3 separate regions of the Homo sapiens genome follow, and regions 2 and 3 are each linked to region 1. Evidence: fine-mapped expression QTL. A gene starts in region 1. Each other region holds a variant in brackets. All regions are shown on one strand. Distances are between the middles of the regions.

Region 1 (10,397 bases):
AACAAAATGAAAATGGATTAAAAACTTATAACACCTAAAACCATGGAACTCCTAGAAGAAAACACAAGAGAAAAGCTCCATGACCTTGGCCTTGGCAATGATTTTTTTTTTTTTTGATATGACACCAAAAGCACAGACAACACAAACAAAAGTAAACAACTGGGACTACATCAAAGTAAAAAGTTATTGCACAGCAAAGGAAACTCAACAAAATAAAAAGGCAACCTAAGAAATGAGAGATAAAATTTGCAAACCATATATCCAATAAGGGATTAATATCAAAAATGTATAAGGAACCCATACAACTCAATAGCAACCCAATTTAAAAAATGAGAAAAGGATCCAAACAGATAATTTTTCCAAAGAAGACATACCAACGGCCAAAAGGTATATGAAAAGGTGCTCAATATCACTGTTCATCAGGGAAATACAACTCAAAACCAGACTGCAATATCACTTCATACCTGTTAGGATGACTTATCGAAAAGTCAAAAGATAGCAACTGTTGCTGAGGACGTGGAGAAAGAACCTTTAGATACTGCTGGTGGGAATATACATTGGTACAGCCATTATGGAAAACAGCATCAAGGGTCCACAAAAAATTAAAAACAGAACTACCACATGATTCATCAATGCCACTTCTGGGTATATATCCAATGAAAATGAAATCACTATCTCAAGGAGATATCTGCACTCCCATGTTCGCTGCATCATCCACAATACCCAAGATATGGAAACAACGACTTAAGTGTCCATTGACAGATAAATGATTAAAGGAAACATGATATATATTATATTTTATGTTTACACAACACATCCACACTGGAATATTATTATTCAGCCTTACAAAAAGAACAAAATCTTGCCATTTGCAACAACAGAGATAAACCTAGAGGACATTGGGCTATGTGAAAAAAGCCAGACTCAGAAAGACAAATGCTACATGATCTCACTTACACACAGACTTTTAAAAAAGTCAAACTCAGAAGCAGAGAGTAGAAGGGTGTTTACCAGAGGTGGAGGGCAGCAGGGGATGGGGAAATGTTCTAAGGGCACAAACTTTCAGTTATAAGATGAGTAAGTTCTGTAGATCTAAGGTACAGTATAGTGACTATACTTAACATATTTACTGTATACTTGAAATTTGCTTAAAGAATAGATCTTAAGTATTTTCAACACCAAAAAATATGGTAGCTATGCGAGGTAACAGATACGTTAATTAGCGTGATTGTGGTAATCATTTCACAATTTATTTGTATACCAAACCATCACACTGTACACTTCAAAATATACAATTTTTGTCAATTTACCTCAATAAAGCTGGGGGAAACAGTTCTAGTCTTTATTCCTAATAAAAATCACTCAGCTAAAGAACACATTACCTTGCTCCAATGCTTAATATTTTATAGTACCCTAATATAACTCTCAATCTCTACCTACTCCAAAGTTATACTTAATTACACATGAATAATAAAGTTATAATAATACTGCTCTTTTCCCTCCTATTCATTTTTAAGAAAAGGAGAGCTAGTATACCATTTGGCGTTAAAGAAGAAGACTACAGTTGGAAAACGGATCTTTTCTAAAGGTGTGAATATGCAAACTAAATTCCCTGTATATGAGTTTCATAAGCATGAAAGTTCACTTCTGCATTTCTTCCACAAATATTTACTAGGCCTTAAGAATACAAAGAAGAATAAGACATAGTGGTCTCCCACCCTCAATAACTATGGATTAACCTCAGCAAATATTATTTCAATCCTGATGACAAGCAGTACTCTGTTCAATTCCAACCAATACATAATTTGGGGCAATATTATGGTAATTTTTATAATCAACAATGAATTATTTTTATTATTAAAAGTATATGGTAATCAACTCAAGGTTTATGTATTGGGGTTGTTATCCACTCCTACTAGTTCACGAAGTAAAAAAAAAAAAAAAAAAAAAAAGGACTAGGTCGCTAGTTATTCAGTTTGAATGACTCATGCTGGACCATCACAAATCTTCTTATGGAATAGACAGTAAGAGAAATCCCTGAGAGTAAATTGGACTCGATTCAACTTCTGGGAAAAAGAGAAAGGGAGAGGCGAATTATAAGCAATATGGAAATAATCTGTATTTACTAGTAATATTTCTTCATTTCTTCACCTTATATTTTTCTCTTCCTAAATTAGAAAAGGATTCTTTCTCCACCTTTCTCCTTTCTCTTTTCCTGTCTTGCTAAATCATGAAGAGACTTTAGAAGGGAATAGAAAATCTGATGGAGGTTTAGATACCAAACTTCCCCTATATCAAAACTAATCATACCCAAGTATAGGAGGGCTTCTCTCTGTAATTCAAGGCTGCACTTTTTGTTCAGGAGAAAAGGTGGCATGTATACTCGTGTTTAGATATGAATAGCACATATTTTTAAGTTTATCATTCCACCGGTTTTCATTTCTATTTTTAATGCCAAATTCCAGAAAGCCCACATTTTGGCAAGCATGGTAGAAAGCACTTCATTCCCTTTCTGGTTCCTCAATTACTGAGGTGCACCACTCTTCATCCAGGAATAAACTCCACTAAGTTCCAATCTCTTATACCTGCACCTCTATTCTCCTAGAAGATGCTGCCGATCCTGTTCAAACTCATTTGAGAGCAAGAGTGTCAAAGAGCTGGGGAGAGCTACCCCATCTTTTTTGCCACCAACTTTTACACAGACTGGTCCAGTTCTTACCATACAATTTCAAACATGCTTATACAAAGGTCAGAAAGACCTTTCCCTTGTCTATTTTACTGTGAGCATATATCTATTGCTTTCTGCTCTGAGGCATAACAGAGAAGGAAAAGGATGTTTTCACTTAATTATTAACATACTTTCAACTTCAGGTTTAAGGAGGTAGGCATATGAAAGTAAGCGCTTAACTTCATATCCTCCCACAGGACAGGAACAAAGGAGAGCATAACATTTCCCTAGAACCAGAAATTATTATGGATTGGGGTCAACTAAATTCTTTATAGGCACTGGTGACAGCTGCGACCTTAAAAGTCTTCCTTCATTTGGGAAAAAAAAAATCTTAACCATCTATTATACCAAACTTAAGATAATCATACACTGAGTTAAAAAAAAAAATACTCTCCACAGCTGACGCACATTACCCAGTGGGAAGGGAAGCCACGCACATCGCACATTTCCCTTTTTAAAGTACGTCTAGCCAATTCAAGAGTAACACAAAACATAGAGTCTAACAGCACATTATTAAACTTCCTCTCGGTATAAATCAGTTTAAAAATGAACATACACTTTAGAAAACAACAAAACACTAAACTTGTGAAGCTCAGAAAGAAGCCAGGAATATTCCTTTTAAATATGTTCTCGGTGGTTAAGAGGAAATGTCCGATGATGTCATCCCTAGATACTCCCTAGTGATGAACACTAACTACTGGTCCTTAAAGGGGGACCATTTTCCTGCAAACCGTGGCGGTCGCTGAGCTTTGCTCAAAGATTCTTTAACCAAAGTCAGGGAAGAGGGGTGTTCGCTGTCTCGGGCTAGAAATCAGGGAAGAGCGCTGGTCCCCGGGCCCCCAGCCCCGGCTCCCAGACCACAGGCGGCCAGGCCTGGGGCGGGCGGGGAAGGGCCTGGGAGCGGCCCAGCTGCACCTGCTCCTCAGGAAGCCGATGGCCCGGGGGCGGGCCGGGGTCTGGGGGTGGTTGTCCCCCATCGGGGCACAGCCCGGCCTCTAGCCGCCCGGTAGACTCCCCGCCCCCCACCTCGCCCCGGTTCCCGGAGGAAAAGACAATACATTTTAACGCCATTGGAGCTGCTGCTGTGCTGCGGCTGCTGCTTCTCCGCCTCCGCGGGGTGCGGCTCTCGCCGCGGCTCGCCCGGCGGCTCTGCGGGCTGCAGGTGCGGGCTGTCGCCACCAGTGGCCCCGGGCACCTCGGCCTTGTTGGCGTCCGCCATCCCGCCGCCGCTGCCTCCGCCTCGGCCGCCTGAGCTGAGGGGCTCCGAGCGCGACAATGGCGGCTGCCGGGGAAGCGGTAACGGATCCCGATTTGAAAAGGCCCCGAGCGCTCAGTAACCCGGATCTCGCGAGAACCGGTCGAGACTGGGTGACTGGGAGATGGTGTGTGCCGGGTGCGGGGGGTGGGAGTGCGGGGGGAGGGGAGCCATGGGAGCTGGGGTCAGGGCCGCTGTTGCTGCAGTCGGCCCTACACCTGCCTGGGAGGGCTGGACCAGTCCTGAAAGCCCCCGGTGGTGGTGCCATGTCTGCCCACCAGCCCGCCTGTCGCTTGGCACCAGTGGAGTCTTCGCTTGCAAAGCGGGATTAGACATCAAAGCCCTAACACCCAGACTGTTCAATTCATTCCAGGTAGGGGCAGTTAAAGAACACACCACTTTGCATCTTTAAAGACTTCTTGCAAGTCCTCAGACTGCCTTTAGAAATCCTTTGAATTAAGCAAATATAAGTCTCTTGCCATTTCAATGCCTAGGCACCCTTCGGACATTCCATAAATAGTTATTGATGACTGATTGCAATTCACCAAAAGGAATGACTTTGAATTTCTTTGAGAATTATTTGTTCTTAGGGGGTGAGGATTTCCCAGGAACTCAACTATCAGCTTAGTAAGAGAAGACTGCAGTTTTTCTCTGGACATCAATCAATATGGGGAATCCATAATTATAAAATATCGTCTACTAGATGGGCTAATAATGGACATTTGAGGTTTTGACTGTGTGTTTATTGTATACTGATGGAAATTCTAGTGAAGTAGTTAGTTATACGCTCTCAAATTTAATTGCCATATGGAGTTTTAAAATACAGTCGTAGATTTTTCCCCCTAAGTATGAAAAGGAAACCGTTAAATTTAATCAACTCCTAATTCTCGAGTACTATAATCTTTCACATTGACATAACCTTTTTCAGCTGAAAAGTTTAAATGCCTTCCCAAATTTTTTTTCCATGAAGAAGCAAACACGTACAGTTTAGTCACTTTGCAGAATATCATACACACATCAGTGGTAAAGTTATAGTTAGAAAGTAATACTCAAATAACATAATTTCATCTTCGGCTTTTCAATGTGTAGTTTCCTACCCTCTACCGAAAAATACCAAGTTCAGCTACTTCATCACACACACACATACACACACACACATACACAAACACACACACACATAATCAGAACATTTTAATGATAAGAATGCTATTGTAGTTGCTGTATAAATTGTTTCTCATTCAACTCTGAGACATAAGATTTATAATCGCAGAAAGGGCATTCAATTGTGACAGACAAAATCTGGGTTAGAACCCCAGCTCTGCCTCTTTTTGCCCATAACTCCCTGGGCAAGTCACCTCATTTCTCAATCTCTCTACAATAAATAGGGATAGCAATACCGACCTTACAGGATTGAGGTGAGGATTAAAAGAAAGCACTTTATGTAGGAAAAAGTGCTATATGAACATAATGTAATATTACAATTCTCTATCTCCCTAAGCTCAGCAGGGTTTTAGTCAAAGACAAGCCAAGTGATTTTTCCCACAGCACTAAATTATAAGTACTTTCAAAATAGTCATCATTCTGTTATTCTTTTGCTATTGTTGAATTCAGTATGAAAATTGAACCCCACCATCACCAGTACAATATATTCTTGCAAAAATCCTTTAATCAACTCAATGCAAGATTTTTTTAAGAGGCCTTTATGCTTCAAACAGAGTAGTAGGTACATGAGGAATACAAAAATGAGTACAGCCCTGTTGGGAGAGGGCTAATGTAAAAAGTACTATTTAAGTGCTATAATACAAATAAAAGCAAAGTATAATTAAAAAATTATTTACAAAAACAGGAGACTGGCCCACATGCCTTAGTTTGCCAATTAAAATATTCCATTAAAATATTTATCTTGATTACTGAGTTTTAACTTTTGTACCCAAGACAAATGCCTCACCCGCTGTAGCTTGGTTCTAGTCCTGATAAAGAGCAGAGGTTAATTCCTACTGAGAGATTGGTGAGGGCCTTATAAAAGAGCTGGATCTTAAAAGACAAAGAATTAAGGCAACTTCTGAAGGGAAGAGAATGATTAATCTTTACCATTCCATCTGACTGCTCAATAGATTGATCTTTCCTTCCTTTCTTGCTATTAATTGCAAAAGATAAAGAAAAAACTATTAATATTCTGTTGCTGAATTCCATTTCTGTATTTGCTTGTCTTCCTCTCTACTGTTTTGGTTTGTTTTGTTTTGTTTTGTCTTTTTTGAGATGGAGTCTCGCTCTGTCACCCAGGCTGGAGTGCAGTGGCGCCATCTCTGCTCACTGCAAGCTCCACCTCCCGCGTTCATACCGTTCTCCTGCCTCAGCCTCCTGAGTAGCTGGGACTACAGGCGCCCGCCAGCAGGCCCGGCTAATTTTTTGTATTTTTAGTAGAAACAGGTTTCACCGTGTTAGCCAGGATGGTCTCCATCTCCTGACCCTGTGATCTGCCTGCCTTGGCCTCCCAAATTGCTGGGATTACAGGCGTGAGCCAGAGCGCCCGGCCTTGGTTTTTTGTTTTTTGTTTGTTTGTTTTTTAGTGCATGTAGGTACATTGAAAAATTCTTAAGTGATGCTCAAATTCTTATTTTCCCATGATTCACATTGCAAAAGCATTATCCTTTGCAATTGCACAAAATATATTACTGGTACAACTTCACATAATCACTTAGTTTTCTTTCTTACAAATTAGAATGCATGTTTATGTGTGTGTACCTGGCGGGATAGGGGAAAAGCTATTACACGTATCTAGAAATCTAATCCTAGAAATCACAAAATATTTTCAATTAATACCTTAATATATGTATCACTTAGGAATTGTGTTCATCTGCTAATAACAATAACTAGAAATAATAGTGTCTTAAGCAAGATATACATTTTTACTCTCTTAAGTAAAATAAATGCAGAAGGAGCATCCCAGAGGATATATAGTAGCTTCACAGTCATCGTGAAGTCAGGTTCCTGCTACCTTAATCTTTCGCCATCCTAGTGTGAGGCTTCCATTCTTAAGGTTGCCCTATGACCCAAGATGGCTGCTGGAGATCGAGGCACCTTGTCGGCATTGTAGGTCAGAAGGAGTCCAGAAAAAAAGGGACCTATCCAGAAGTCTCACACAACACTTCCGCTTATGGGCAAGAACTTAGTCACATGACACACTCATCTGTGGGGGAGGTTGGCAAATAATTTGGGGGCTGGGCTTACTGCCCAGGGTTCTGTTACCAATGAAGAAGAGAATGGATGTCATCATTCTTCTTTTTTTTAATTTATTTTGTCTTTAAGAATTAAGTTTTAGGGATAATAATAAAATTTAAAAGAAAAAGAAACTAGACAAAAATGGTGGCTAACATTTCTATGGTGACAATAGCTTCTAAAAATACTTCCATATTTGTGCTGATATTCTAGCCCTAGAATTCATAATAAATAGATTACCTTCTCTGGGGTATTCAGAAACTCAAAAAAGAAAAAAGAATTAAACGGCAAAGACCAACAATATGAAGTAAAACAAAAAGTATGGTATAATTTTTAAGTCAATTTGCTTCACTATATAAATTGCTGGATTTGAAGGCATGAAGTTTCTAAACCTTACAAAGTAAAAATTTACCTCTTTAAAGCTTAAAAAGGAATTCGTAACTTTTTAAAATACTATGGTTTATATTTGAAATCTACATATGTATTTCCCTTTTTATAGAAAGTTCATTCTGTGATGAAAATGTGGACATTGGTTACTATCAAGTAGAAAGTAAAGTTTAATCTTATTCTGACGATTAGCTATTTACCATTCTCTCTCTTCTTCTCTTTTCCTCCTTTCTCTCTCTCTCTCCCTCCGTATCTCTGTATCACCCCCAATACACCCTCATTACACCACAGCTCTGCTTACTTTAGGAGTTCTTTTTTTTTAGCATTTAGCATTCCAAAAATACATCCTATACAAAGGTCTCTACCAGCTAGCTAAGTGAAGTTTAGAATTAAGACAATTATCTGAATAATCCAGGCAGAAACTCCACTTTTACCTCAATTATTCAAATAATTCAGAAAATAACCTCCATTGCCTTCAGGCATTGCCATTGGATTTCTGTCTGTGATCCTCCATTTCATGAAACTAAACAGAATCCAAAAATTGTACCGTATTACAGCCCTTTTCCTCAAGGGTCACACCATTCCTGATGGCTGCTTATGAGCCTAGTTTGGTGAAAGCTATGATTTTTCAGTAGTATACTGATGTGATATTTTTTCATGGTGTATTGCAAAATGGTAGATTGAAGTGATTTCATGTTACTATGTTTCAATTCACAAAGTGTTTAAACATGCAGAATATATATATGTGTGTATATGCAATATGCAGTATGTATATAAACAAAATATATTTCCATGATTTTCATTTCTAGCTATTTTTATCAGTCAGGAAAAGAAAGCTTTTGACTCAGTCAAACACTATAGATGTTTCCTCTAGGAAAGGATTTAATGCATAAAGTCTTAGAGGCTTATACAACAATTAGTAAGGCTGAGAGGGCAAAGGTCCAGGAGCTATTGCTAGAGTTTGAAATATTAGGAAGAGCAGGAGTCACAAGGAACCATGGCCAAGGATCCCTCTGACCTGTAACAACAAGATAAGTCTCAAGACTTCCTTGTGCCCAGAATCTGCTGACTTAACATTCCATCTGCCGTTTGCTGATACCCACAAAGTTACCTGCAGCCACTACTGAAATTGATGGCTTCTCTTTCCCTTCCTCCTTGCAAATTTTGTAACAGTGCCTCTCCTTGGTAGAATTTAGATTGAAATACTATTAGCAACAGAGTTTGATAAATGTCTCATAGGAGACAGAACTTAGAAGGGCAAAAACGATGCTAAGTGTCAATAGGTAATATTTTGCACAGTTTCTAAACCATTTGGCATGCTTTCTGAGGTACCCACATATGAAGGAGACAGTTACCCTATGTGTGCAATCGTGCTTTGAAAAATAAAATCAGGCCAAATGTTTTAAAATGTGTAAATTATAGATAGAAAACAACAACTTACAAACTGAGAGATCTCAAACCGAAAATGCTAAGTGGAAGCTCAGAGGCATGGCATTATAGGCTGGCTTATAAAGCAAAAATGAAACTTTAACTTTTACGATGATTTGTTATTACCATGGAGGTTTTCAGACAACAGATTGGTTTAAAATTCATCATCTTATACCATTTTTGGAAGACAACTTAAGTTTTACTTACAATTGTCAGAGGTATTTACAAGAAATAACCTAAGTTACTCTTACATGGCCTAACTGGTTTTGTCTGCTCCGAGGGTTCTCAAGCCTGGTCTCCATTTTATTTTGTTTTAACAATCCATTCATTCATTGTGTGTGTTAGATTTAAAAATGCCTGAACTTCTAAATAAGATAAAGTATGTAAAAATACTTGTGACTTATCTTATTCTCTTGACTCCATTAACAAATCTCAATTGTGAGTTCCTTGCAATATCGTTCAGGCTACTAAAGAGACTGCATGGTAGTACGGTCAGTCTAGATGTTCTGACAGTCCCAACGTTACAGAGCAAATGTAGGCTTGCATAAGTGTCCATGTACTTCAAACCAGATTTCTGCATCAGCACTCTGAATATTTCTGGAAACTAGTATCAACAACATTTCTGAAAAATCAAACCTTATTCTTCCCAAGTGCCTTTGCTTTGAGCACTATCTAAAGTCCTCGGGACAGTTACATAGGAACTACTGTAGAACTACTGTAGACTAAAAAATTATTACAATTAATCAGTCCTCAAAACATTAGGCTTACATTTTCTCCTCAAAAATCTTCATATTTTTAAGTACTGTTTTAGATCATAGTCACTAACTTCAATTTATTTTATACTGACTTTTAGGTAGTGTAGAAAAAGAAGGCCCCTCCTTAGTTCTTTCTGATTATCTCCTATAGTTGCCTAAAGTGTCTTCGCATCTCACCAGATAAACGTTCATTCAGTTTAGCTTTGCTTAATATATGAGAGGTGTGGCTTTTATTTGGCTAGCCTAGCTTTAGAACTCTGATACCAAATATACAACTGTTCATTCTTTAACAATGCACAGAACCCTGAAAAAGAAAAAGAACTCACATTCTACAAAATCATACATTAAAAATAACTGGCAACTTAAGAAAATGGAAAGATAAGCCACAGACTGGAATAAAATCTTTTCAAAACGCATATCTAATAAAGAACTTATATCCAAAAACAAAGAAGATATGCAAATGAAAAATAAGCAAATGAAATTATCATTAACATCAGATGTACTGGGGGTTGAAAATTGGAACAATAATGAGAAACCACTATATATTATTGGAATGGCTAAAATCCAAAACACTGACAACACTAAATGTTGAAGATGATGTGGAGCAACAGGAACTCTCATTAAT
Region 2 (10,397 bases), 30 kb before region 1:
TGTACATGTCAAAACAAATCAAGTTAGAAGACTTTAAATATTATAGTTGCCAGATCACTATGGGCTAATTTTAGTCTGGCAACCAAATCAGACAGCCAGACATATTTAGTTCTAGGAAGGGAGGAGAAAAAAAAGGAGAAAGGTAAAAGCAAGAGGACCTGTCGAAAAACTGCATAAGCCCTTTCCAGATGATAAGATCAAACTTTAATATCAATCCATAAGGAAGATTTTTTTCTGTTGAAATCTTGATCTGAATAATCTCTTACCTATAACATGATGGACTACTTTATACTTTCACTTTTTCATCCACTCCCTATTACTGCATTTCTTTTTGAAAACCAACTGGTAGTCAACTGCTCACCTACTAAACACTAATTAAATGGTCTAGGATAATAAATGTCATACTGAGACAAAACCAGTATCTTGTTACACAGGCCAGATAGTCTTTAAATGTGTTCTGAAAAGTTATAAAATAGGCTAATCTCCAGAGAAATTACATGATAATGGTTAAAGTAGATCCAAATAATATTTAGCCCACAACTGGAATGAAATGGGGAAAAAAAGCAAAAACATAGCAATCACACTTTCTAATAAACATCATAAAATGAAACTGGAAAACACATTTTAAAACAATTTAAAGATAAATGCAGCACAATTTCCAGAGTCCTCTTAATATCTTGAATGCTGGTACCTGAAAAAAAGCAAGTTTAATTAAAGAAGCTGTTGGTAAATGACAGCACCTTACAGTTATTTTGAAAAGAACTGTGGAGGATTTTCAAGGGCTTTTAAGGTTAAAGGTTCTTCCTTATCTTAATTTTACCTAAAAACGTAGAGTTTTTCTTAAGTATCCCATCATAGATTTATCAGCAATAGTAAAGTTCACCTAAGCAAGAAATCTTCAAAACCTCAAAAGAAAATATGTCACTATTTCTTGCATAATCTGTCTCTCGATCTTTCAGGACAGTTTCTCTTTTTTGTTTTTCTCTTAAATTGCCTCTTTCAGTTTAGAAATCAGCACTCAGACCTCCAAATTCCTGACCTCACAATGACCTCAAAAATTTTCTAGTTGACAAGTTCCCTCAGCTAAGATACTTCAACTTCCTCACAGTTCTGATGTTCAAGCTATATGGACAGTAGCCCATAAATATTTGTTTTATGGTTAGACTGCTCCCCTAAAAAGAATCCCAGCAGTACAGAACCAGAAAGAGTTATAGATGTTCTAAGTTTCTTCCTGATCCTATAAAAACACCAACTGAAATATTTTCTTTTCTAAAGATAAATAATTGAGGAGAAAAAAATTAGTTTCAAATAGCTGATTAAAATCAAACCTGCCTGACTTTTTACATGCTCTGAGAACTTCCTCAACTAAGTTAAATATCTAATAATCTTGTACGATTCCAAGAAAACAAAAACAGGACTGATATTTTGGCAACAGCACAGGACAAAATAGTATGCCATGAGAAATCAGTATCACAGAATAATCAAACATATTGCTGTTACATATACTAGTAATAAAAAGGATTTGTCCCACAGTAAAAGAAACCTTTCTGTTTTATTTAACCCAGTCTATAAACATCTTGTGGGGTATATTTTGGGATATGCCAGTATAAAAACACATGTAAAAATAGACCAAATTAAAGGATGTTCAATAAAATCTACTGCCTACATGAAGTTAACACAACCACGGATGAAAACAGGAAAATCAGAAATTCTACGATAAGAAAACATAATAAGGATATAAGGGATAGAAAAGCAAAGTATTCTGTTGTTTCTTTACAAACAAAAGACAGAGCCTATCAATGAATGCTCATCATATATCATTTGTACTATTACTGCAATTTTACTGTTAAGTTATTCTAAAGTCCACTCAAAATGCTTGAAGCAGCAAGTACTTTAATCAATAAAATCTACCATAAGCCTCCATTTTCCATGCAGTTGACAAGCACACTGATGTAGAAATACTACATAATGGAAATCTGTGGAACAAAGTTATATCTGTTTATATGGCTTATAGCAGGAATAACTGAGAATGGGTTTTCCTTGTGCTGAAGTTCTAAAATGTTATAGTCTTGCATCATACTGAGCCAGAAGGCCAGAATGCAGCTAAAGTATACAGATGACATGGGAGCACATTTAAAAGACTATGCCCATTTGACCCTATTAGCACAAGCTGAAATGATGTGGGGTCCAATACTAAATAGGTTAATTTATTTATACTCAGCCTTTTTGAAAATGCATCTCTCTGAGGAATTACACAAGGCAAGATAAAAAGATAGATCTCTTTTGCTACAGGAAAGATGTGTATCTTACCAGCCTGGGGTCAAAAATGTTACCTTTAGGGGCTTGATGGAACCAGAAAATAGCAGTTATATTCACTTATTTCTCATCTTGTTATATTTGGAAAGATCTGAAAACAATCTTTTCTGAATTACAAAGGCTGAGAAAATGTTCTATTGAGGGTAATATAACCCATAATATAACATTTACTCAGCCTTTGTAATTACTCCATCAAGAACAGTTAATCACTAGAGATAATTTATAAGCAGAGGGGGTTGCCAGTGGCACCCTTTACTGACAGATATTGTTTATGGGAGATGCAAGGAGTACTACTAGATTCTTACTAAGAAGCAAGCAAGAGAATATACTTACTCTCTTTGGGCTTACAAGAAAAACAACAACAGAAGACTGCCTTTTACTGCCCAAGAGGCCATTACTGGCTTGCAGCATGTTAAAAAGAAATGTCTCATACTAAGAAAAAGATTTATAAATAAGTGACATGGCAGAAAAATGGATGGTTCAGTTCATACTAGCTAGATAATTTGTATAGTTGTCAATAGCTGGACACTTAATTCTATATTATTATAACTTTTCCATCAATGTAGTTCAAGGTTAAAAATAAGGGAGATATAGGGAATTGTGTAAATATGGTATTATCTTAATATAAAATCTAAGAGTCAGAAACTTTTACAAAAGAATTGATAAAACAAAAATCATTAATCTTAAAATATAATTATAATCGAAAAAGGATTATAAGAATAGAGCTAAAATAGCAAAGTAAAGAATAATAATTTAACCATTATTTTATATGGCTAACATACTATAAAAATTTTCTATGTAGATTTGAATGTTTTTTCCTTTCAAAAAATGTCTTGCAATTGCTGATGTCCTCATGTCAAAACAATGCCACTCCAACCAGAAGCCCACCAAACACTTGAAGTTTGCTGCAAGCCTTGCTCATATCTAACCTCAAACAGAAAGCAGCCTACAAAGAATAAAGAACAGTCAACTCAACAATGGTCACCTTTTCATTGTCATTTCTTTGTCCTGCTTTGCTCTTTATCTTGCTAAGTTTCATTTCTACTTTTAACATAATGTCATATCTCATTTGGAGATTTTTTTTTTCACTCAAACTAAATCAACACAGATTATACTTGCTGCCACTGTTCCTCATTTGATGTATTTCACTAAGACCCTATATACATTCTTTCCTCTGTAGTCTACAGGATTCATGGCCAGACACTGCTTACTCATTCTGGTAGATCTTCTTACTCCTGCAAAGAAGACCAATACCTCAAGGCCACTTTACTATTTTGCTTTCTCTTAGTGGTGACTATTAACCAGTTAACTTGTTTTCAACAACTTTTTCTTGAATTTTTGATTAGTTCAAAATAAAAGGATGATCAAGAAAGAGAGTCAACAGAACATCCTAGACAAATTCATGTTGTATGTTCTTTGAGGGCAGGAGCATCTCACTTTGTTCACCTTCAAAATTCTAGGGCCTAACAGACTGCCAAAAATATGTTTGTGGATTTAATGAATAAATTACTGAATAAATGAACATCTACCCAGAATGCTTAACTTATAAACTTTTCATAAACTCTTACCATATGTACAGAGGCAATAAAAGGAGCTAAGATAAAAAGACAATTCTTGCCTTCAAGAGCTTCCACGTAGGATGGAAGAAAACTTGAACAAATAACTATTAATATAATAAAAGCTACAAAAGAGTTAGATATAAAGAAATATGAGATAATATTATCTCTGTAGTGGCCACAAAGGCTATTTTGTGACAGAACACTAAACCTATTCCTTCATGACCTCAGAAATTATATATATGCTATCTTATGTAATTTCCTATTGTGACTACAGTCGCTGAGATTCCATGCAATAGCAGAAAAATATTAATACTAGCAAAAAATATTTTACTTTATAACACTCACATGAATTCTCTCATTATTGCAAAAGAAAGAAAAAGTGAGAATTTAGTCAATTAAGATATTTGTAACAAAAGTTAAGTATGGTATATAAAAAGCTCTTTTTTAAAAGTGATAAACCACCTAATCTTCCACAGACCTGTGGAACACATTAAGGTTGTATAAGTAGTATCATTATAGTTAAGAACAGTTTATAAAAGAATAAGAAGGGCAACCAAAATGTACCCATGTCCAAGGCATTCCTGACAGTGGGTTGTATGCTACCAGCTAGGTTTCCTGTGTTGGGTAGGAATACAGTGTATGTAGAATGGGTCTCACCTATTAACTCCTTTATCAATTGGACATCAGCATCTCAGTTGGTTATGCTGATAATCCCCTGCACTATACTATAAACAAGGAAATAAATATACCATTTATTAATATTTCTCATGAGAAAAAAAGTTTAATGCAAAGAATGATAATATATTTATCTTTTTAAAATGAGGTAATAAAATAAGCCCTATCTTTATTAACAGAAAACAATGATAGGGTATATCCTAAACCTTGTTACCTAAACCTTGTTATTACCTAGTAGTAATAGCACTGCTCTAAGTCAAAAGATAGTGAAATAATTCATTTATTTGAAGTGGAATTAGACCTGGCACGCTATCAAGACTATCCAGGAATAGGCATCCGGACAGGCAAAGGTCTAAACACAGTGTATAAAAGTTTAAAACCAATTTTCCTCCATAATCAATATCAACATATCTGCAGTCATTTGCATACTTACCACACTGACTGAATTTCTCTTTTAGTTTCTGCCAAGTCAAGTCAAAAGGTAGCTAGAATGAAAAGAGGTATTAGTAACATATATACAAGAAAAAAAAGAATTTGAATTATCCTTAATATTTATTTGCTTACATTTCTGACAAATATCTGGTTGCCTTTGGAGCCTATTCTCTCTCTCATTCCGCTTCCCATTGGACCCGATAAAAATCCTCGATCCATATCGATGCTCCTTTCCAGTATAGCTCCTATACCTGGTCCCATTCTATCAAAGCTGGAACTCATCCGGTCCAGTCCCATCCCCATTCCTCCAGTCACACTGTTCATGCTACCCATTCCACCACCTGGATTTTCAAGAAAGGACGGGGGGATTTGGGAATTTTGTGTTTTTGTTTCAAAAACATAAGGAAAAGGAGAAGAGGAGAAAGGAGGAAAAGGAGATAAACATTTTTGAGAAAGAAGGGGGAAATTAATTTGTTTATATAATTAAATAATATAAAAACATAAAATTATTTTCATACAGATAACAACTTTCCAAAGAACAGAATTTGCTTACATATACATTTAGTTAGCTGAGAAATTCTAGCCACTGTATAAATACATTATGCATATATAACTGTATAAAATTGTATTCTGATCACTAAATATATCATATAAATATATAAATCCTCTACCAATCACTGCTTCCAATAACAGGACAGTTGTTCTGATCCTTATTTTTATTTTCCAATAATATCAAGCATAATAATTGCTAAAATAAAGATACACAGAGATAAATGCAAATTATTACAACTCTAGCACTCAAGCCGCTCTCATCATACTCTCCTACAAGTAAATACTCCTTTCCTAGCTTATCTTTCACCTCAGCATCTTCACCTCTGTTTCCCAGTTTTTATTCTCATGGTAATTCAATACTCATAGCAAAACATAACTTTTAATCTCAATATTACACGGAACTTGTCAAGGGAACAAAAAATGCTATCACTTCCCGTTAGCCAGAGCTTAAGAATTTAGCTCCGAACTCATACCTACTTCATTCTTATGCACTGACTCGATT[T/C]CCTGTCCTTTTCAATTGCTCCCATCTTACTCATTATCAAACCTTTTGTCTTGTATGTAATATCCCCAAACATGGAAATTCTAAAAATTAACATCACCCTCAAATTGGCTTTTTGTGAATAACCAATATAAAATCAGGGAAACAGAAGTACAAACACTGAGATAAAAGAGGAAGGTAAGGAAGTTAGGACTAATAGGAAATGGCTGAGGCTAAAAGATGATGGAAGGAGGAATAAAAGGAGCAAGATACAATGGAAGTAGACGTCTTAAGCTGACAGGATTTTAGAATTTACTTTTAGAATAGTTTAAATAGGTTGTATTTTCTATTTGTGAAATTTGATCAATTAAAGGAAGTCAATAAAGTATGGAGAGCTCAGAGACATGTCCCAGTAAGCAAAAGAGGTTAAAAAAATAAATAAATAATCCATGTATTCAGGCTTAATATAAGGCCTAAAAGGTAGGAGTGGAAATAGACGGATGGGAGATTCAGCATTCCCCAGTGTTGCAACTACTCTTGATGCTATTACGGGAAAGGTTCAAGAGGAAAAGAATTAAGTACCTCTTTCAACCTTAGCCTGACTCAAGCTCAGGAGATGCCTAAGAGTGCTATATCTGCATTTACCAAAAGACATAGATGTTTACAAATAAAATAAGCTAGTCACTAATAGCTATTATAGAAAATAAGCAAGGAAACAAAGTTGGTGCTAAAGCAAAAGTTGCTCCTGAAACATGATCAGAGAAATCCCCAGATTCCTTAGTTGGAAAGAAGGTTCCTGGATTGGCTGTTAACACATAGTTTAGAAATATCAAAAAAGTAAAATTCAAACAGTTAATTTAGAAATTTCAAACAATAATCAAACAGAAAGGCTTTGCTCAATTATCAAGGTTTCTCAAATTATAGCAAGACACATTAACGTATAAGAACAAAGTATTACTATACTACGATAACTACTCTTGCAAAGTCTTTGCAAGCACTCAAATATTACTGAATAAATTCTAGTAAAATTTAAACCTACTTATTCCAGATCCTACTGGACCCATGTTAGAAGATCCTATTCTTCCTGCAAACCCTCCAATCATTGCACTGCCTAAACAAGGATGGAAAGATAATATACTAATTAATTTTAAATAATCATACTTTAAAATTCCCAAGGTACTATGTGCTCTGATTTACAATAAATGAAAAGCATAAAGTCTTCTGAAAATAGAGTTCAAATATGTAAGATGTTGAAAAAGAGAGCTAGCATATTAAAATCCTTAAAGTGTTTTCTTCAGGTAATAAGTTGTATAAAACATTATGATTTTCTGATTTTTCACAAAAAAAGAGAAACCAAATTTCAAAAATTATAGCCTACAAAAAGAAAAGGAGAAGTATGCAGCCAGCCCTACCAAGTCTACCAAAGGAATCTCCAAAGCCTCGATTTATTCCAATATCACCACGTCCAAAATCTCGCTCCATGCTACTAGTCATCGCACCACGGTACAGCTCTGAAAAAATTGTGCAACAAATTAACCTTTTCAAATATATCAATACATGTTGAAAACATTCAGGAATGTATCTAAATTATGAAAAGACGCGTAAGTCACAAATATAAAATAGTCTGTCATTTACCCAATTTACCTCACATGCCACACATATCATCCCCATTCCCCAGGCCTGTCCTTATCCCCTAGTGCCTATATGCCTTCTGAAGACATTTTTAGCACACATTCCTAAGTTATAGGGGGGAAATATTAATAATAGGGAAAACTAAATATGCACACACTTCCCACTGCATACATTTACCTACCTCCCATTCGGCCAACTCCTCCAAATCCTCCCATGCTATTCATTGCTTCCAGACCACCAAACCCTATTCCTATGGAATAAAGATTAATTTTGAGATCCAACTGTCAGTCATGTAGCTGAAAGGTACGTTTTGTAAATGTTAAATCTCACCAGTAAGCTCTTCATCCACCCTACCTTGTGCAGCTACTTCTTAACACATCACCTTCCTTTAAGTATGTACCAGGCTCAATTTCTGCTAGCAGCCTTTAGAACATGAGCCAACAATAAACCATGACTTTTTTTTCATGGAATTCTCAACACAGTTTCTAGTTTATTAAAAATGGTGATGGGTACATACAAAAAAACAAATCTTTATACATACCTCCTCCAATTCTATTCATTCCTCCAAAACCTGGACCATCCATTCCCATACCTCAAATAAAATACACAGTATGTACTTTAAGTATATTTTATTTTTATGACTAAAAGATGATATAATGCATTATAGCAAAATAGATACCACTGGTATAACCACAATGAAACACTAGAGAAGCGGTAGGGTACAGGAGGCATGGTTTAAAGTGCTATGCCATAGCAGCTGTCTAATCATGAATCTTCAAAAGGGTTTCTTTGAACATTTATCAGACAAGAAAGCAAAATTCACTAGTAACACCCACAACATTCAGTTAGAGAATATCTTGAACTAGGTAATCATTCACTTTTTTTTCCACAATAAACACAGAAATACTACTATCAATGATTTTTTTTTTCCAGCATAGACACAGAAATAGCATTACAGCAGATTTAGAGATCAGGCCAGAATGTAAGGACTCTCTAAACATCGCAGTTAAAAGAGCAGTAAAAATTTTCAAAATATAAATAGTATGTATTTAGGAGAGGGTAGGTAGGTGTGAGAGTCTAAGGGTAAGGGAGAAAACTTGTTTGGATCAGAATGATTATGATAATGAGCCTCATAATTTAAAGTGTGACTACAGCATCTTGACAAAATAGGAATCTGATAGCATTTATTAGTCCATCAATTAAAACAGTAATTCACAAAGTATGGTCCAGGGACTCTTGAGGGTTCAATAGGTCAAAACTATTTAAGTCACCAAATACTACTAAGACATTATTTGATGTTTTACCCTCATTCTCTTGAGTTTAAGGTGTAATTTTCCAAACACTATATGATGTACAATATCACAAAAAACTAAAGTGCAGAAACAGATATAACAGCAATATTAAGCCAAACATTAAAAAGATGTGTGGAAAGGTAAAACAATGCCACTCTCCTCACCAATTTCTTTTTTGCATTGAAAAATAGTTTATTTTCTTAAAACTTTTATGTATGTTAACATGTAATGAGTTTATCATTTTTTAATATGTAATTTTTTTAATTTCTAATTTTTCATTTATAATACAGTAAATACTGGTAATTATAACTACATAAACAAAGCATTTTCGGGTTCTCAACAAATTTTAAAATATAAAAGGGTCCTAACACCAAAGTTTAAAAACCAATCTCTAAAAATGAACTGTGAGTTCTTCCAGGTGAGCAGCCAAATAACTACCTGAAAAGCCACCTTCCCAAATGGATAAACAGATTTTAGCTGCCTATGATATGGTAGCATTTCAGCTACTCCATAAATACTGTTCATAGATGATATATTCTCCTTCTGCCTTCAAGACATTTCAAAATCCAAAATGCTAAAAGGCTAGCTACAACATAGCTGGCCCCAAAGAAACCCTCCTGACTTCTGCCTATCTCTTTCATGTTAGCTGTGCTCAAGGTTTCATTCCTTTTTCAGAATGAAGTGACACCGTAAATATCTAACTATTAATTAGAGTCCTTTAAACATTATTACAGACCACATCAATGGAGGCTTTATTAGCTAGCATATGTATCATTTAAAAAGAAAAGAGGAAGTTAGAATACTCACCACCTGGACCTAAATTTCCCATTACTCCACCTATGTTCAACTGGCTGGCACTAATAGGCTGTCCACCCGGACCAAGTCCCATCCCAATGCCTCCAAGACCACCTAAAACAAAAATGAGAACAATCATTACAAAGATCCATATATGATTAACTAATTGGCAATAAAATTTTTTAAAAAGCTATATACCTGTAGTAGTATCTGTAAAATTTCTGCAAATTTTCATATAAAAGCACTGGTTCTTGTTTTTGTCTAGAAAGTAGCACACTGAAGCCCGACTATAAAACCATTTATTAATGAGAAGTGTTTTATGAAATAAAACATGATATAATACAAAGTACACCTTATACCCCACTTAAAGGTACACTGAGAGGAATAATAAAATACCTAGAGGATTTTGAATAATATCATATCACCTTATATATGGCACACATATCTGAAAATGAGTATCTTGCCCAAATTTGTAGACCCACTTAAAATTTGATAATTACTTTTTAAATGGTTCAAATCAAACTAAAAAGTCAATAACCATGAAAGTATAACACTGAATAAGGCAAATATTATATTACCTAGTTTTCTCATTGATATAAATATTTATTTATATTTATATGGCACCTTAAGTGTTTCCACATCTATTGTCCATAGAAGAGGAAATTT
Region 3 (10,397 bases), 330 kb before region 1:
TTCTCCAGTTCTCTATGTATGTGTAGCTATAGATGAAAACTCGTTTGCTCTGGAAATAAAATGCTTTCTAAAGCATTTGCTAATGCTTTCTAAATGAAGGTCAAGAAAAGAAAGAAAAATAGTATGTTTTGTTGGAGGAAAGTTTCAAGTTTAATTAAATTATAGAACATCATGATTCAAAGGAACTTCAGGGATCGTCTGATAGAAGTCTTCATTGAATTATCAAATCCTGGCCCAAGTGGACATCAGCTGCTACTTGGATCTTCTAATGACAAGAAGTGCAAGAGAGAGTATCTCATTTGTTTCCTGAAAGTTCTGATTGTTTAAACTTCTAAGTACAATCTGCCTCCTGAACATTCCATTGTAGTTCTTTGATCTGGAGCCGTACAAAAGCTTCCTCTTTTACATGTCAGCTTTACACACCACCCTCAGCCTGGAGGATAATTAAAGTTGCTTGGAATTTGCCACTCAAGGAATCGTATCCTACCTGAATGATAATATCCCACTAGGAGAAAATCAGGGCAAGCTCATGGTCAGTGCCAATAAACCTTTCAGAAGTTATGGACCAAATGTCCAAATTCCTATGTTGAAGCCCTAATCTTGAATGTGAAGGTAGTTGGAAGTAATTAGGTTTAGATGAGGTCACAAGGATGGGGCCCCCATGATGGGATTAATGTCCTTTTAAGAAGAGGAAGGCACCAGAGTTCTCTCTCTCTTTCTGCCATGCCAGGTCACAACTAGACATGGCAGTCTGCACGCCAGGAGGCGGGCCCCTACCAAGAATTCAGCCATACTGATGCCCTCATCATGTGCTACCCAGCCTCCATAACTGTGAGAACAATTGTCTGTTGCTTAAGCCACCCAGTCTATGGTATTTTGTCATAGCAACCAAGTAGACTAATATAAGAAAGAACCTATAAGCCTGCTCTGTCCAGTATGGTAGTCATCAGCCTGCCAATTGTGATTATTGAGTGTTTGACATATGGCTGATCTAAATTGAGATGGGCTGTGGGTGTAAAGTACAGAGCAGATCTCAAAGACTTATATGAAAAAAGAATGTAAAATATCTGTTTAATTTTCTACATTGATTACATGTTGAAATAGTAATCGTTTATAATATTGAATAAATTAAAATAATTTACTAAAATCAATTTCATTAGTTTTTTTTTGTTGTATAATGTGACTTAGAAAATATAGAGTCATATACATGACTCATGCTATAGTTTTATAGAAGAACACAGCTCTAAAGGCAAGCAGCTGTTCACAGATGTGACAAATCCAAGTCTAGCCTGGCCTCTGCTTTATCCTTTCTTACTTCTGCCTTTCCCCAATCCCACTGGCCCATGTCCCTTCTTTTCTGCATGTTTGTAGCAGGGTTCACCCTCATCCTCACTAATGTCAAGTCAAACCTCAAATTTGTATGTGGCTCCTCAATTGAGTACTCAAAACTCAGGACCACATGTTTGAGGACTCTAATGATACAGTAATTGGCCCTCAATAGGCTAAGCTCCATTCACTCAAACACTCAACAATTTTTTTTGCAGTTACCTCATGCTAGGTATTCTGTTGGGAATAGAAAAATGAATGAGATAGTCCCCTCTTGTATGGAACACATGCTTGACTGGGAAGATAGATGTTAGACAAATATACATACGTGCACATACAATAACTTGTCAGTTCAAATTGTGATAAATTCTATGGTGCAAGTAGTATGACCAGAGGATCTTGTATACCTTGGAAATCACAGGGAGCATTTTTAAGGAAGCGGTAATGAAAGGAAGATTTGAAAGGCAGGAAGGAGTAATCCGGGTGAAGACCAAGAGAAAGAACTTTTTAGGTGTGTGATGGCCTCAAAGTGAGAAAGAGCTTGGCCACATTCAACTAAATGGAAGGAGGCTGATATAAACAAAGGGCTTGGGGTCAGGAGGAGAACGGGCCAAGATGAGGTTGGAGATGGAGGCAAGGCCCATATCAAAAACTGCTGCAAACCATGTCAGGAAATTTGTACTTTAAGTATACTGACTGCCAACTGAAAGATTTTAAGCTCTACAGTGACAGGATGACAAATGTGTGGGGGTTTTTTTGTTTGTTTGTTTCTAAAAAAGATTACTCTAACAATCATGTGCAGAATAGACTACAAGGGTCCAAGAAAGAAAGCAAGAAACTAGTGAGGCTATTTTTGGTGTTTAGGAAAGAGATGTAGGTGGCTTAGTCTTGAGGGAATATAAACTTAGATAGTGGATGGACTCAAAATAAAATCTATAGAACTTGGAAGAGATTGTATAGAGTGAGTGATGAAAAAATAGAGATCAAGGATTGCTCCAAGTTCCCAGCATCAGCATTTGGAAAGATGAAGATGTCTTCACGAGCAGAAGAAGACAGATGAAGGAACAGCAAAAAGAAAGATCAAGAGTTCAGTTTAGACAGACCAAGAACTCTGTTCTTGGCAAGTCATGAACACTATGATTAAAAAGAGCCAGATAGGGTAGAGGTCAAGGGTACGGTGAGAAGTAGTAATAGTCATGACCTTTCTCACAAATAAGAATGGGCAAATGTTTTGACCTATCCCACATTAACAACATAAACTAAGAGGCATGATTAGTCAAAGGTTTCAGAAGGAATCTTGAAAAACATAAAGGACAGTCTTTTGATGACTAAAATTATGACCAGGAGTGAGTGTGTGAAATTAGCCTGACTGTTTTTGGGTATGGCTGCCTAACTCATGACCAAGGGAATGTGTGTTCACCTGAATGCAACAGGATTCAAGCTGGAGGCACTGGAACTATCCATCAAGCTTAGTATTTGCCTTCAGAGCTTCTTCTCAAATATTTACAAAAATGGTTAAGAATCCTGAACCTAAGGCTGTGCACAGTGGCTCACTCCTATAATCCCAGCACTTTGGGAGGCCAAGGCAGGCAGATCACTTGAGGCCAGGAGTTCAAGACCAGCCTGGACCACATGAAGAAACCCCGTCTCTACTAAAAATACAAAAATTAGCCAGGCATGGTGGCACATGCCTGTAATCCCAACTACTTGGAGGCTGAGGCACGACAATCACTTGAACCCAGGAGGCAGAGGTTGCAGTGAACTGGGATTGTGTCACTGCACTCCAGCCTGGACAACACAGCAAGACTCTGTCTCAAATAATAATAATAATAATAATTTAAAAAAAGAATTATGAATCTAACATTGAAGTAAAGAGGAAGCACTAGGAAAAAGTGGGAGTACTAGAAAGCATCTTACTCATAGCATGTGTCTCCCGGGAAGCTTATAGAAACTGGATTCTTCTGTGCTTTCTAGTTGGCAAGAAGAGTAAATTCCTTACCAGGCAAACTTAGAGTTCTCCCTAAGTCTCTCACCCTGTTGAATATACAGGAAACCCCACAAAAGAGGACAAGTCTACTAACTTCCAAGGAAATAAAATATGCCTATGCTGCTGTATCTTTCTTACAGACACAAGGAATGATCCATGGAAATAAGGAAGCAACCCCAAAACCCAGTCTGTTGGAAGTCGAGTTTTTGATGATTAAAAAGGCAGGTACAGCCGGGCACAGTGGCTCACGTCTGTAATCCCAGCACTTTGGGAGGCCGAGGCGGGTGGATCATGAGGTCAGGAGATTGAGACCATCCTGGCTAACACGGTGAAAACCCGTCTCTACTAAAAATATAAAAAATTGGCCGGGTGTGGTGGCGGGCACCTGTAGTCCCAGCTATTTGGGAGGCTGAGGCAGGAGAATGGCTTGAACCCAGGAGGCGGAGCTTGCAGTGAGCCGAGATCGTGTCACTGCACTCCAGCCTGGATGACAGAGCGAGACTCCATCTCAAAAAAAAAAAAAAAAAAAGAAAAAGAAAAGGCAGGTACCACCCTGCATGCATAAGGAGGTCCCCTTCTTGGGCCCGTTACATTGCCTGCCAAATCTGAAGTCCCTGCTATGAAGGAACTGTGAAACACTGACTCCAGATCCAGATTTTCTTGTCTTCTGGAAATACAGCGCTGCTCCACTCCCATACTTTAGCAGAATTCTTCTCCTCCCTGCACATTCAACCCCCATATTCTAACCATTGGTACCATTCCAAAATCTTACTATACTTATGCCCTTCTTTCCTGTGCTATGTTAAAACTTCTGGTTAACTATGCTGTCCATATTCTACACATTCACGTCTTAAATAAATACATTTTTTTTTATATTGGCGATTCCAAATTGCCTACAAAACAATTACAAAATACGTCAAGCACACAGTAAAGACTAGTCAAGTATGAAATAGTATAGAGTAAAAGTGTTTCAAGGCAGACAAACTGACCTAAATTCACAGTCAATTGTTCTGCATTGTTAGGACTTCACTAATGATTGTATTTGTTCCATCTTGTCAAGGTTGATCTGCCATTTATGCAATCCATTGATCTACAGACAAGAATTAATTTCGAACTCAACAACTTCTGTCAAAGTAAGGAGCTTAGTTTGAAAATATAGTTTTCTGTTGCAGATCTTTGCTGATATCTTCTAAAACTGAAATTCAGGCAGTACCAACACTAAAATAGAAAACAAATCGAAACAAAAAATCAACTCCATGCAAATGTAGGCTTAAATGTAGGATGAATATATTTGTATCCTACCTTTTCCTCTACCTTTTCTCCTTCCACCCTCTACATGCCTCCCTGTCACCCATCCATTAGCATTGTCAAAGTTGTTTACATTCTGTCCTGCAATCATGAGCAAATGTACTTTGTGTAAACTGATAGAAAACATTGGAAACAAAAACAAAAACCTGTTTACATTATCATGATCATGCAAATGCTGTTCATTCCTGTATTGAACAGCATGCCAGGATTACCTCTTCTTTGTAGGTCTCACCTTGGGATCCTTGAGTCATTGGTAGGAAAAGTTTCTAGCATCAAAGCTAAAAGTGTGTTTTCCCATTATACTCAATTAATTCTATAAAATCAATTTACATTTGACTTTGCTTCACGGTTGGACCATTACTCTCCTTCTTTTGTTTTCCTTGGAGTTTCTAATTTTTTTTTCATTTCAGTTTGTGCTTTTGCCTTGAACATATCACCAAACATGTCCAAGCTATCTTGCAAAGACATTTGTAAATA[T/C]TTTTATACTCAGAACCTAAACTCTCTTTCTGTGCTGGGGAATTTTCCACAGGGTGCGTCTTTTGGAGTCAAAGCCCAAGTTCCTCTATTGAAAGCTGAAAATGCCCCAGTCTACTTCCCTGATATCCTTTGCATCTAGGCCATGAACAAGTTACCTAGGATTTGCCTATAAAATTTTACTACTGAAGACTTTAAATTAAGAACTAATGACTCAAAGAAGTGGGCACCATGAAGTGTTAAGTCTGGATGGTATGGTTGGCGGCAGTGGCTGGAGTGATGAATTTCTGTAGACCCCAAGACAGTGGTATTAGGGTGCCTAGTGCCCAGGCCCAGGAGCAACCATGAGACAAACTGCATGTTCAGCCTTCAATGGAGGTGGGAGTGGTGTCCCACGGGTCTAAAGCCATGGCCTAATTTTGGCAACTCTCTCTGGCAGCTGCTCAGCTGCCCCTTTTCCTCCACTTTTCTCAACCTGATATTTCAAACTTATCAGTAATGAGGTGTACATTTTCTAAATACTTACTGTCTAAAAGGCTTTCTATTCCGAACTCCCACTTCAGTGGACATAAACTTTGAGCTTGAGTATAATTTTCCGTCAAATTTGAAGTTTCTTGCTTCATTGTCTTCTACCTTCCAACCTTGCTTTTTGAAAAGACTGATGCCAATTGCATTCTTTTTTCTTTGTAGGGATTTGGGAAAATAATTTCTGAAAGATTTGCAGGTCTTCTCTTTGTCCCTGGTGTTCTGAATTCACAAGGCTGTGTCTAGAAAAGGTTTATTTCTATTATTTGGAATCAGCACTTTGTAAGTCCTTTCCATTGGATGGTGCCAGTATTGCAGCTCTGAGAAAATTCCTTTTTTTATTGATTTTTTACTTCCTTTTGTTTTCTTAATTCTTTCTTTCTAAGAAGCTTATTAATCCAATATGCACTCCCTGGATGTTTCCTTTCCCTATGTCTCTTATCTTTTCTTGCATTTTTTTCCCATTTCTGTCTTTTTCTTCTATTTTCTGAGAAATACCACAGACTTTAATTCTTTTATTGATTTTTTGGTTGCTTTTGGCAATTGTATGTTAATCAGCAGAGGCTTTTTCTTTTTTCTTGTTCTCTCAGTGTCTTTTTATGGCATTCAAATCTTGTTTCGTGAATATATTTTCTAATCTCTCTGAGCTTATTACTGAGGAAGGGTTTAAATGCTTCTCTTTCATTTTATGAATCACTTCTTTTCCCCATAGCCTTTTGTTGTATGATTTGGGTTCTAATAGTTCTCCTCATTGGCTTTGTGCTTTTTACTTTCCATTACTATTTACACAGAAAACTGGGTACAAAAATGGTGTTCCTCTGATACCATAAAAGTAAAACTACCCCTGGCCAGAATAAAATACAATTCATATTGGCAAGGCTTTCCTATTTTTTGGCAATAAGAAGCCCATGAAATTATAATTAATGTGTAATTGAAGTAAGTAAGGTGCTTCTCTGGACAAGGTGTTTCCATAAAAAACTCATCACAGAGCAACGGGATGATGTATATTGTGAAGCCAGAATACAGGCACCAAAACCAAAATACATTCCATCTGAACCAGGCTCCAGGCCCATGATGACAATACTCACACTTTCTAGGGGTCTGAGAATCACCTTCCTTTACTGCAGACGGACCTTCCCTATTACTCCTGTCTCCAGCTATAATTGACCTTTAATCTCTCCGAGTGACCTACCAGCTACTGAAGTTAAGGAAACCTTGTTTAGATTGGTGGTTTTTCATTTCTTCTAGGTCACTGACTGCTTTGAGTGTCTGACAAGAACATCAGCTCTTTTCCCCCAGAAAAATGTATATACTTAAAATTGTTTGGATATAATTATAAAAATTTCAATTCATCCATAAACCTTGTGGCCCAGAGGTGAGAAGCTCTTTTCTGTGTTATGAAAAGTCCAAATTTTAACAACTGACATACTATCCAAAAGCCAATGCAAATGTCTAACCACCATATCAGAAAGTGTCCTGCTATCAGCATTATTCTAGGAGTAAGCAAAGAAGTGCGATAATAGTATTTTATCAAAAGATCTTCCAGTGACTGAAAACTAGAGCTTAAAAAGCAACTCAAATATCAAGGGCACAAGAGCTGGAAATTCCAGTCCCCTGATGAGGAAATCTATGCTACGTGAAAAGATGCTTTAAAATTAGTTCCCAGATTGGGCTGGGCACACTTGTTCACGCCTGTAATCCCAGGAATTTGGGAGGCCGAGGCTGGCAGATTGCTTGAGATCAGGAGTTTGAGACCAGCCTGAGCAACATGGCAAAACCCTGTCTCCGCCAAAAATTTAAAAAATTAGCTGGGTGTGGTGGCACTTGCCTATGTAGTCCCAGCTGCTTGGGAGGCTGAGGTGAGAGGATCACTTGAGCCCAGAAGACAGAGATTGCAGTGAGCTGAGATCATGCCACTGCACTTCCAGCCTGGGCTACAGAGCCAGACCCTATATCAATCAATAAATCAATAATTAAAATAAAATTTTAAAAATCAAGAAAAATTAGTCCCCAGCTTGATTTTGTGCCACTGGCCCAAGAATAAACCAGTTTTCCTGTCTGGTGACACACAGGACAACTCTCTGGAATTGATGTGAAGATAGAGCTGGGTTTGGTTCACAGAAGAAACTGTGCAGGTGGGAAGTCAGTTCCGCAGACTCGCCATGAGTCTGACCCAGCTCACTGTTCTCTATGAACTCTTCTTCGTCTTGTCCCTGTGAAGAAAATATTCAACCTGGTCTGTCTTCTACTCTTTGGGTCTGGAGAGATGGGGTCTTGTAGTCCACACAAATGGAGAGTTTCACAGCAGGGCAATACAATGAGGTCAAGAGTCACTATTATCCTTACAGATTACATCAAAAGATGTAATTTATCTTTTTGGAGTTTGAATCCAGAAGTGTCAAGGCAGCAAGATGAAAAGCAGGAATTTATACAGCATGTTCTTGCCCACTTGCCCTCATACCTGGAGGAATGAGTCCTCTAAAAGTTACATACTATAGCCTTAACTCACATACCTTAACTTTTGTATGGAGAAGTGCATAATCCTTGAAATTGACTTGTTTGGGCGTAATGACTAACTAGCTATAAAACCAAAGTTTGAATTGCTAATTTAAAAGTCCACAGGCTGACTGACATTAAGATGTAAATACAAATTTCCCAGTACACACCTTGCATCTGACAGCTACATGACCACTATGTTCCAAAGAAGTCTAACAGCCACAGGCCATTGCTGGGTGGCAGAGGTAAGAGACTCCATGGGGTTATTTGGCTATATTTTATTACCGAGCTCAGGACTTGCTTGTGCCAGAACCAGGAGATGTTGACCTTTTATAATTGAGGCAATCTCCTTAAAGGTCAACCCTGACAGAAAAGACTGTAATTGTGATTGGAATTGCCAACTCCCAGGGCTACGTGAACTCAGACAAGCATTTGCTGTTTTCTCTCACCGCTCTTTCAGCAACTCTACTCAGGCCACGTGGGGTTTTAATATCATCAACTGGGGGGAAATCAACCAAATACAACAGCTGCCACTCCTTGAGGGCAGGGATTGGGTCTTTTTCCATCATGTTACCTGTAATATTTAGCCCAGTGCCTAACAAGTTTACTAAATATTTGTTCTCTCACTGACCAACTGAACAAATGAACAAATGTTCTCACAGTAAATAGTAATGAAATGCCAGCATTTTCCTGGAGTTTTCCCAGAGGGATGTATTCAATTTTACCATTCCTGGCAACATTGAGGGCTCTAAGCTACCTAAACCTGGAAGCAAAACAGAAAGGTAAATTTTCTTGAGCCATTATATGTTTCCCACAGTCTTATCTGAGCTCCCCTTGATGAGGAATAACCTGTCATGTGCCTTAAAGCCTCAAAACCACAACCTCATATAGGTTATGATGCTAATTTTACCGATGAGGAAGTGGAGACTCAGACTGTTTAAAGAGCTTTCCAAGAACCTACAGATAAGTACACGTGGATCCGGGATTGGAAGTCCAAGTCTGTCAGATTCTGACATGTAAAGCTTTCTCCCCCACACAGACCCAAGGGAGCCTTTGGAGTGGTTCTTCTTGTCCTCAAAGACTCTCACTTTCTCCAAAGTTCCCATCACCTGTAAATGAGAAAGGTGACCCCATCAGGCTCCAATTCAGACATAGTATAGCATTTATCTAATGTGGGCTTGAAGCCCTTCACTACTAGCTCTCTGTTGAGTCAAATTCCAGTCAAAGTGAACATGAGTGTGACATGTGTGCAGTAGATTCTGGCCAAGGGTGTAGACTGTGAAATAAATGCCTGCACTCACAGACTGCTTCTTAGGTGTGTGACACTGCATTGAATCTTTCCTTGCTGGTGCAACAGGAGAGCCCAGTCCAGTGCCTCTTCTACTACCTAATGCTAAATGTGTTCAATATCCTTTAGAGGGCAAGGTTCTGTGTAATGCGGAACACTCCTGACTCTACCTGGAGAATTGCGTGAACACCCAAGATCAGAAGCCAAGATGTCAGATCAACAAAATGCCACGGGGCAGGCACTCACCTCAATCTCTCATTCAGAAGGGTGTGCAATTCCAAGTGGAAGTGGGACCCCCAAACCAGCTGTGAATTCTGAAGGCAGCTGAAAAGCCGGGAGATTCACAGCATACTGTCTCTCCCCAAGGTGTGGGTGCAGGTTTCTCTCTCGGGACATTCTCACCTCCCGCTGGGGTACCTCCCCCAGCGTTCAGCAAAGTGCAACAGGAGGTCAGGAGCTCCCAGGACTATGATTCTCTCTCCCTACCAGACAGGGATGATTTGATCTGGTTCCAGTCCAACCCAAAGCTACTTCAGTAAACAGTGTTTTTTTTTTTGTTTTTTTTTTTCTGAAGATTGCCTATTTCTGTCTTTTACCTCCCTTGCATATGGCAAGGAGAAATAAGATAATATATGTGCAATGCTTTGAGCTCCTTGGGAAAGCAGCACTCTTTAAGTGCATGATATTAATAATAGCAATATTTCTGTTACCACGAAGACAAGCTGAGTCCATCTTTCACATGTCCTTTTAAGTCATTTTCCCTGCGGCTGCCTTTTCTGGTAAAATGGTTCTAAATGAGCCATACAAATCTCTAGTTTTAAAATACTCATTTGGGGAAAATGCTGGTTAGGCTGTATCTTACCTGGAAGGGGAATATTCCTATGTTTGTTTCTTGAAATGATGATGATTCCGGTAGGTCAGGAATGGGAGGGCAGTCAACCACCAGGAAACAGACATGTGAAATATGCAATTGGTGTGGAAAATAGAAATCCA

Which allele goes with the higher level. Positions count from the first base shown, and alleles are read on the strand shown. Sizes are in standard deviations (SD) of each study's normalised expression. Not every link is listed here.
With allele T in place of C in region 2, the expression in fibroblasts of the gene that starts at base 4,005 in region 1 is higher (moderate effect, 0.70 SD a copy in GTEx).

Evidence for each region.
Region 2: its variant is fine-mapped to the expression of MYEF2 in fibroblasts (GTEx, PIP above 0.99).
Region 3: its variant is fine-mapped to the expression of MYEF2 in thyroid (GTEx, PIP above 0.99).

The regions. Positions count from the first base shown.
Region 1 is chr15:48,174,291-48,184,687 of GRCh38, forward strand. It overlaps MYEF2 (myelin expression factor 2), which reads right to left and starts at 4,005. Exons shown (of 17, transcript NM_016132.5): 1 at 3,787-4,005. The coding sequence starts at 3,947. It also overlaps a transcript of CTXN2 not described here. RefSeq lists silencers at 3,347-3,516, 3,547-3,976, 4,147-4,246 and an enhancer at 3,949-4,600.
Region 2 is chr15:48,144,049-48,154,445 of GRCh38, forward strand. MYEF2 (myelin expression factor 2) reads right to left here. Exons shown (of 17, transcript NM_016132.5): 10 at 9,744-9,845; 11 at 8,186-8,236; 12 at 7,826-7,894; 13 at 7,425-7,523; 14 at 7,052-7,123; 15 at 5,115-5,323; 16 at 4,984-5,035. Among named protein-coding and RNA genes, the nearest start is that of SLC24A5, 28 kb to the left of the region's middle. RefSeq lists an enhancer at 5,773-6,337. The variant T/C (reference allele first, on the strand shown) is at 6,037.
Region 3 is chr15:47,848,949-47,859,345 of GRCh38, forward strand. No RefSeq gene overlaps it. Among named protein-coding and RNA genes, the nearest start is that of LINC01491, 7.9 kb to the left of the region's middle. RefSeq lists an enhancer at 2,065-3,264. The variant T/C (reference allele first, on the strand shown) is at 5,099.